2 linked regions of the Homo sapiens genome follow. The protein of the gene in region 1 purifies or fractionates together with the protein of each later gene. This does not show direct contact. Each region holds a gene or a part of one and is shown on either strand. Other genes may lie near its edges.

What was found.
Region 2: the proteins of ACADL (region 1) and ACTR3B purify together in Homo sapiens (affinity purification with mass spectrometry; one large-scale study listed by BioGRID and IntAct). This does not show direct contact.

What each region holds. Positions count from the first base shown.
Region 1 is NC_000002.12:210,194,158-210,197,974, reverse strand, and holds part of ACADL (long-chain specific acyl-CoA dehydrogenase, mitochondrial precursor), read left to right. Parts: intron 1-2,636; coding exon 2,637-2,764; intron 2,765-3,817. UniProt on the Homo sapiens protein: Long-chain specific acyl-CoA dehydrogenase is one of the acyl-CoA dehydrogenases that catalyze the first step of mitochondrial fatty acid beta-oxidation, an aerobic process breaking down fatty acids into acetyl-CoA and allowing the production of energy from fats.
Region 2 is NC_000007.14:152,758,187-152,762,646, reverse strand, and holds the start of ACTR3B (actin-related protein 3B), read right to left. Parts: upstream 2,896-4,460; 5' UTR 2,765-2,895; coding exon 2,721-2,764; exon of another isoform or gene 2,595-2,720; intron 1-2,594. UniProt on the Homo sapiens protein: Plays a role in the organization of the actin cytoskeleton.

The sequences.
Region 1 (3,817 bases):
GACCAAATCTGTTTAGTAACGCTCAACCCAATGGCAAGAATATGTAAATATTTAATCTTTTTATCCTCAGAGAGTAAATTATGTACTCTTGGAGACATTATTCTCTCAGACCTCTGGACTTCACTGAATGCACTGATGCAAGAATTCTAAATCATTCCATTCTGGTTTGAAGTTTTACTTCAGCTTCTAGAAGTTTCCAGCATTTACAAAGGAATGACTCTTGTATGAGAGAATCAGGCTTAGATATCTTTACTCTTTCATATTGTAAAGACAGTGCATAAATTCCCAAATGTGGCATCATGTAGGCAAAAAAATATCTTGAGACTTGTTGGATCCACCCTTATTTTCCAAATAAAGTGTCATACATAGTGTCATTGAACTAAACTAGGAGTAGGCTTAGAAACCATCTTCAGGGATTTTCATGGAATACTCATCTGTTTTCGATATATAGATTATTTGCCTATTTTTTTCTTTTTTTGTTCCATCTTTATATTGTCTAAGAGTAAACTTCAATGTGTGGGTTGGGAGTGGGAAACTTTGTGCTGATTAAAGGGTAGATATTTGACCTAATTAAATATATGATGAATAGAAATGGAGATAGAAAAAATTAAGGGAAACAATAAGCGGGGAAGAAAGTTTTGATGTGACCCAGCATGTTCAGAACTAGAGGCCAGAATACAGAGATGGAAGGAGTGGGGTGCCAACCTTCTCATTGCTTAGTTTTGGAATCATTCGATGCCAGTTACATTCTCTGTTTCTAGAACAGGGTGAAATAAAACCAGGGGAAAGACAGTCAGTTGGAGTTTTCATCAGCACAGTAGTTATGTTGATATACCTGTAAGGAATCTGCCCCTCAGAGCTTTACTCCACCTGATACACCCTGGTCTTGCTTGGTCCTGGGTCTTTTTACACTCCCATTCTACTCTTTTCCAGAAATGGTAAGTATCAAAACTGTCCCAACCAACAATGACAGTGAAAGAATCAGTTTTATAACTTGAGAATTGCTGTAGCCAGCATTAAAAGCAGACCATGTATCTTCTGAGAATGTGTCCCACCACCCTCCTTTGAGAACACAGCTGTGGCTTTGGACTTGGTAGTACCTAGGTGGGATGTGTTTAATTTCTAGTTTGAGTTTCACTGCACCACCTTTGCCTGTAACTTTCCATGTATATGCTATTAGCCACAGTGAAGTTCTTACTCATTTCACAGCAGAATGATCAGAACTGTTTCTATCTGAATTTTCACAAAGAAGATAGGCCAGCTGACCATATCTGGGCCTTGGACCTAAGAAATCAACTAGAATGGAGTATACTTTTGGAGCTACCCAAAGTGGGAACCCAGTATTTCAAGTTCAAGCCAATTTCCTGAGGGAGGCTCAAGAGTCAGTGCCAAAGAGAACAGATATACACTCCAAGTTCAGAGTGTGAGAGCCTAGAGTCAGGAATGAAATAAAGCTTGATTGAAGCAAGGACAGTCAGCAACAATTGAGAATGGTCTAAATAGAATGATTTCCAAAAATGCTAATGGGTTGTCCATGGCCAGTAGGAGGAGGTAGGTACATAGCTATATTAACATTGATAATCCCAGACCATTCAGTCCAAGCTAGAGACTGCTAAACAAGCTATTGAGAGGTACGGGAGGTGTATTCATCCATTTTCATACTGCTATGAAGAAATACCTGAGACTGGGTAATTTATTAAAAAAAAAAAAAGAGGTTTAATGGACTCACAGTTCCACATGGCTGGGGAGGCCTCATAATCATGGCGGAAGGTGAAGGAGGAACAACAGCACATCTTACATGGTAGCAGGCAAAACAGCGTGTGCAGGGGAACCACTCTTTATAAAACCATCAGATCTCATGAGACTTACTCACTATCACAAGAACATCATGGGACAAACCCACCCCCATGATTCAATTATCTCCCACCACGTCCCTCCCACAACATGTGGGGATTATGGGAGCTACAATTCAAGATAAGATTTGGGTAGGGACAGAGCCAAACCATATCAGAAGGGATAATGTGAAGGGATGAAAGAGGATGAGGGTACTGGATTTTGATCTCTTTAGTACTCTGATTTTATTCTATTGCTTTCTACAGATCTAGATTAAATACTGTGCAATATTAAATAATACCTTATATTTTGATGTTTATGAACATATATAGAAACCCCTTGTCCCTCCAGATGTTAGAAGCAGAGTAGCAAAATCTGTATACTTAATTTCATTAATAAAGAAAAAAATCTTCAAGGATTTAATCTCTGGAGGAAAAAGCAACAGGTGTTTTCAACGGCTGTACCTAAATAACTGTACCACAAGATGGTGCTCACACATTAAAGTCATGCTGTTTTTCAAGAATTTTGCCTCGTCTAAATTTTACAATCTGAAACAAGACATTGTTTATGTTTTAAACTATTTTTGCATCTTTTAGTACAAATTTCCTTAGCACTGAAATATAGTGAGTTTTAAATTTAAGCTGATTTGGTAACAAATGCCATTTTTATGGAGGAAAAAACCAACAATTCCACTTTTGTTTGCCCTAAAGATCTTTTATTGTATAATTTCTGATATGTTAAGTGGGTTGAAGTTTATATTTCTACCATGCTCACTTTTTTCTTTTATTTCCTTTAAATTCAAGACAGTGCAACATAAATTAGCAGAATTAAAAACACATATATGTGTAACCCGAGCATTTGTGGACAACTGTCTCCAGCTGCATGAAGCGAAACGTTTGGACTCCGCCACTGCTTGCATGGCGAAATATTGGTATGCATGCTACAGTAATTAGAGTGCGGTGTGTGCTCAGACTGATATGGAATTCTGCCAATTTTAAGCTCAGCCTTGAGGGTCTTAAAGGAAGAAATCTGTGAAATGAAAAATAAAAGTGAGACTCCACTTTAAAAAAAAATGCTAAAAAGTTCCATTAAGCATATGTATAATGTGCTAAAAATGTTTCAAGTTGGTATTTAATTTTTTTATCCTAATAGGCAAGCAAAGTTAGTATTTAATTCTTAACTTGCTATTGAAAATAAAATATTAAGAGTGGGAAAATGAAGAGTGATATTGATAGGATGACTGATTCATTCATTCAAGTAATAGTTTAATTTCAAATTATCTGAAGAGTGGCAGTATAGTGAGGCTGAAAGGGAACAGTAAAACTTAGGAGTCTTGAGATAGAGTCCAAATTCTTTTATTAAATAACTATAATTAAACTTAATTCCATCCAGGAAAATGTTTTTGTTATCTGTGAAATGACTAAGTTGGACAGGATTTTTCTATTTAAGGTGCTTTCCAATTTTAAGAAAAAATTCAGGAAGAACTGGCTGTCCAATCAAAGTTTCACAGGCTCTATTAAGTGAAAGGAGAATAAAAATCCTATTAAGTTTAGAAAGACTTCGATTTGAATTAAAGATTATTAGCAATGGTGTTAAAGATGAGTTGAATGAAAAAACATCCCTGTATGTCAGACTTTTGTATATTTTAAGATTTTAGAATATACAGTCTAAATCAGATTCTGGAAGTAGATTTGGTTTCCTCTTTTTAAAAACAAACATTCTCCCATATCATTAGCCCAAGAGTAACTTAGAATAAATTCCTGTCATTATTCATTAACTTGTGTTCAGTTCAATCACAGGTAGAACAGGGGAAATATTTTGTGCTTTATATAATGATCCCATAATAACAAAATTGCCAGGTTGAAAAATAATGTGGAATTACTTTTCAGAAACTTGCACTTTTGAGGAGACTTTTTATATTTACATTTACAAGAAGTTCTTTGACTAGTGGCAAAAAGTGTAAAAAAAATTTACATATTTTTGG
Region 2 (4,460 bases), on another chromosome or scaffold:
ATATAGGATACTACTGTATGTATGTTAAATTTTCTGATTTTGATGATTGGAATGTGATTCTAGAAGGGAAAATGTGTCCTCAGAAAGTACGCATTCAAGTATTTTGATATAAAAGGGTATGATCTCTGCAACTTACTCTCAAACAGTGCAGGAAAGTAATAATAATATGTATGGACATACAGAGAGTGACAAAGCAAATGTTAACAGTTGGTAAAACTGGAAGAAGAGTATACAGTAGTTTTTTGTTCTCTTCCAGCTTTCAGTAGATTTGAAATTATTTCAAAAAAAGTTGAAAAATGCAAAAGACTTCATTTGAAAAGTTTGGCTCAGAGAAGTGAGACCGGAGTTGTGAAATATTCTCTGAAAACTATGCAGCCTAGTCATCCCTTTAAATAGATGAAGCTTTATTTTTGGACTCAGCAGATCCCTTTGTCCATATTATCCTGGCCTCCAGCACATCACTGCTTACTCAGGTAGTCTCGGGGTTTACCTGAGGAGGATTCAAGGATACTGGGATGAAATTTATTTGTAAAAAATACTGTTTATCACACTGTCCAATAAATCATTAGTGCCCACTATGTATAGCTCAATGCTTTTACAATTTAGTACTACAAAAAAAGGCTTTTTTCACCCAAGAAACAGGTATTTCTCTTGATTTCTGATGACAGGAATTACATAACCATGACTCTTATGATGTTGTCAGACAGGAAGACTAAGGTCGAATGTGCGGACCAACTTCAGCAGCCACTGGGCTAAAGCTCAGGGTGACTTCCTAGGTCCGTTCTTTTCCTTTGGCTTGGTTATTTTTATCTGAATTTTACCACTTTTTGTCCTATTTTGAGGCAAAACTAAATCCAAAAATCATTTTGGCTCTCTGGGAAATGTAAGAACTACTGATGTGCTCAAGTTGGTAAATTCGGGCTCTTTCAGGCTCCTTCTGGCCATACACTCGATATGGGGAATTCATATGGAGATTCCCTGCCACCGTTTCTAAGTCTTGACACCAACTTCTGAAGCATGACTTTGGGCCACAAAACAATGATCTATAGAAGTTGAATCTCCAAGTTAGCCAAGTTACATTAATCACTTACCTCAAAAGGTCAAAACTGAGCACGACATTTTAGGTATTTATAGCAAGAAAGATGAGTAAGGTCCACGACTTACTAATCTTAAAGGTATGACAACTCTGTGAGCATTATTTTATTGCTACTACCAAGAATTCCTTTATATTTTAATAGTTCTGCAAGACTAAAACTACAAAGCAAAAATCTCACATGCAAATGTGGAAATGAAAAATACTTTCACCCACTGGTTTCACTCTTGACACAACCAGACCTGAGGGGACCTGAGGTGAACCCATTGGGGGAGGGCATGAGTTAAGGGTGTCAATAATTGAGGGAGGGGAGCTGTAGTATCGACAACGCTGATTTTGGCTTGTGTTTTAGGTAGAAAAGCAAGTTCTAAAATAAAGAGCTACAAAGCTTGATATGACGTGTATTTCAAAAAGAATTCACACAAGCAAAGAGGATTTTTCCAGTCCACAACCACTTCTGGTCGCTTCAGCAGCAAAAGGAAGGAACTAACAGTAGGAGATGGACTGTAGCAAACTAAAGAAGGCACCCCCACAAGGTTGTCAAGGAAACCAAACCAAGTGCATTTTTCTATAGAAAAGAATCAAGGGTAAGGTGAACATGCCATGTTACATTTTGTGGCAAAAATGATTAAAATCCCTTCTTGAAAAAAATCGCTAAGAGACCAAATTTACTTCCAGGCTATTTTACTAAGCACTACACCCATAACGCAGGCAGGCAAGCTTGTATTCCCAAACTACCAGCTACATGGATTCAGCAATCACCTTACTACAACCAGCTAACTTGGGTCACCGATACTTCAGGGCATTTCCTAAGATCTCTTTTTAATAGCTTAACGGCAACGAAAGAAGTGGTCACACTCAAAAAGTTAAAAACAAAAACCTCTACCACAATTCCACAAACATGCTCTCCCAAATTTAGGGTATTTTTCAAAATGGAGTCTTTTTAAACACATCATTTTTCAGCGAAAAGGCAAATCTATGCAAACCAAAGGGACAGCTTGGCCTGAGTGTGCCATTTCATACTGGAAAAGCGCAGGGAGGGCAGTAAAAATGGTATCAAGTTGGGAGATCGATGCTATTCTCTCCACAAGTAGGTGGTAAAGAATCCTCAGCCAGGAGGAATGACACGCACACGCGGGGACAGAACGAGGGCCAGTGCTGAGAACGCTGGAAGGCAGGGACACCGTTCACTAGGAGATGAGTGACGTTAAAGGATCTGCAGTGATGATCTGTGCCTCACGCTGGCGAATATTCCTAGGAGGGGAGATCCCGCGCTCCCGGTGTCCCTCAGGGTGTCCACCCCGGCGACGGCCGGAGCCGGGCTGCGGGTCCAGGGGCCCGGCCACGTGGGCGGGGGAGGCGAGGAGCGCCGGGCTCGCTCAGAGTGGGCACCGCGTCCCTACCCTCCGTGCTTTTCCTCTTGTGGCCCTTCCCGGCAGGGAAGAGGGGGTTTTACGACGTCAAGGCAAGGCTTGGAGGGAAGCGGCGGCCGGCGCCCCACCTGCCCAGGTGATCGCGGGGCTCAAGCCCGGGGCGACGGACGCAGCTCGACCTCCAGGCGAGGTGGACGCCAGGGGCCGGGAGCGGGGCCGCGGAGGAGCGGGGGTGGGCGCCGAGCTGCTCTTACCCGGTGCCACAGTCCACCACGCAGGGAGGCAGGGAGCCTGCCATGCTCGGGACGCGCGGCGCTCGGCCCCGCCGGCAGCCCGAGAGCGCCCCGTCGCCGTCCGCTCCGCCGCCCGCTAGCCCCGCGCGCAGCGTCTCCCGCGAGCCGCCGCAGCGCCGCTGCCGGGAGCCCGGATGCTCGGCGGCCGACACGTGACGTCACTCCCCGGTCGGCCAATCAGAACGCGCGCACGCCCCGCCTCCCCCAACACCCCCACCCCCACTCCGGCGCGCCATCTTTAGTGCTGGCAGCGAGGCTTCTTGGCCCCATACGTCCAACCTTGCTGCTGGAGAGATTGGGGTTTATTTTTAACTGACTTACATGAACGTGACCCCATTTCCGAGGCCTGGCGCCTTTCTCCTCCTGTAAGTCTTCGCTCGAATGTCACCTTGCGAGGGAAGTTGTTCCTGATCACCCTGACTATGTCCCCTACCGGTACTGTATCCTCTGTCTCAACAATCTGTTGGTTTCATTCCTAACCCTTAAAGCAAAGTGTTTATATTTTTATATTTATGTATTTGTTGTCTGCCTCCCCTACTGGACTATCAAATCTTCTAGGATAGGGCTTGAGTCTGTCTTAATCACTATTGATGAGCAGCAGGTGCTTAGCACAGTATTTGGTGTACCTGTGGAAGTGCCCAAATGTTTGTTGAATGACTGAGTAACCTTCCCCATATAATAAAAAAAAAAAAAAAAATTAGTTGGAATTGGCCGGGCGCGGTGGCTCACGCCTGTAATCCCAGCACTTTGGGAGGCTGAGGGTGGATCACAAGGTCAGGAGTTCCAGACCAGCCTGGCCAACATGGTGAAACCCCTTCTCTACTGAAAATACAAAAATTAGCCGGGCGTGGTGGCGGGTGCCTGTAATCCCAGCTGCTCCGGAGGCTGAGGCAGGAGAATCGCTTGAACCTGGGAGGCGGAGGTTGCAGTGAGCCAAGATCGCGCCATTGCACTCCAGCCTGGACAACAGGGCGAGAGTCTGTCTCAAAAAAACAACAAAAAAAATTAGTTGGAATTATTATACCTAACACGGCCTAAATTTTTCTAAGAAGAAAAATCTGCAAAACAAATGCTTGGCCAGCCTTAAGGAATGAATGGCCTTAGACTGAGTAAACCACACCAAGATCACTCCTGGAAAATGTTTTCAAGTGTCGAAGATGGGATGATCGCCCAAAAGTTCTTACTGAAACCAAAGAAGGCAAACACCACCTACTATATTATAAAGGTACTGAGAGTCCCACTTGCCACTTGCTTCCTGCTTCTTGCCCGATCGTAAATTCTTGATACTAATTTTTTAGGAGCTTTCTGGAAACATGTATTTTTTTGTTTTGTTTTGTTTTTTGAGATGAGTCTCACTCTGTCGCCCAGGCTGGAGTGCAGTGGCGCAATCTCGGCTCACTGCAACTCCGCCTCCCAGGTTCAAGCAATTCTCCTGCCTCAGCCTCCCAAGTAGCTGGGATTACAGGCACCCACTACCATGCCCGGTTAATTTTTTGTATTTTTAGTAGAGACAGGGTTTCATCATGCTGGCCAGACTGGTCTTGAGCTCCTGACCTCGTGATCTGCCTGCCTCAGCCTCCCAAAGTACTGGGATTACAGGCATGAGCCACCACGCCCAGCCAAGACATGTTGTTTTTACAGGTACTTAAAACATTGTGTTTTTTACCTAGAAGTAATAGATACGTTGACCACTCCTAGGTA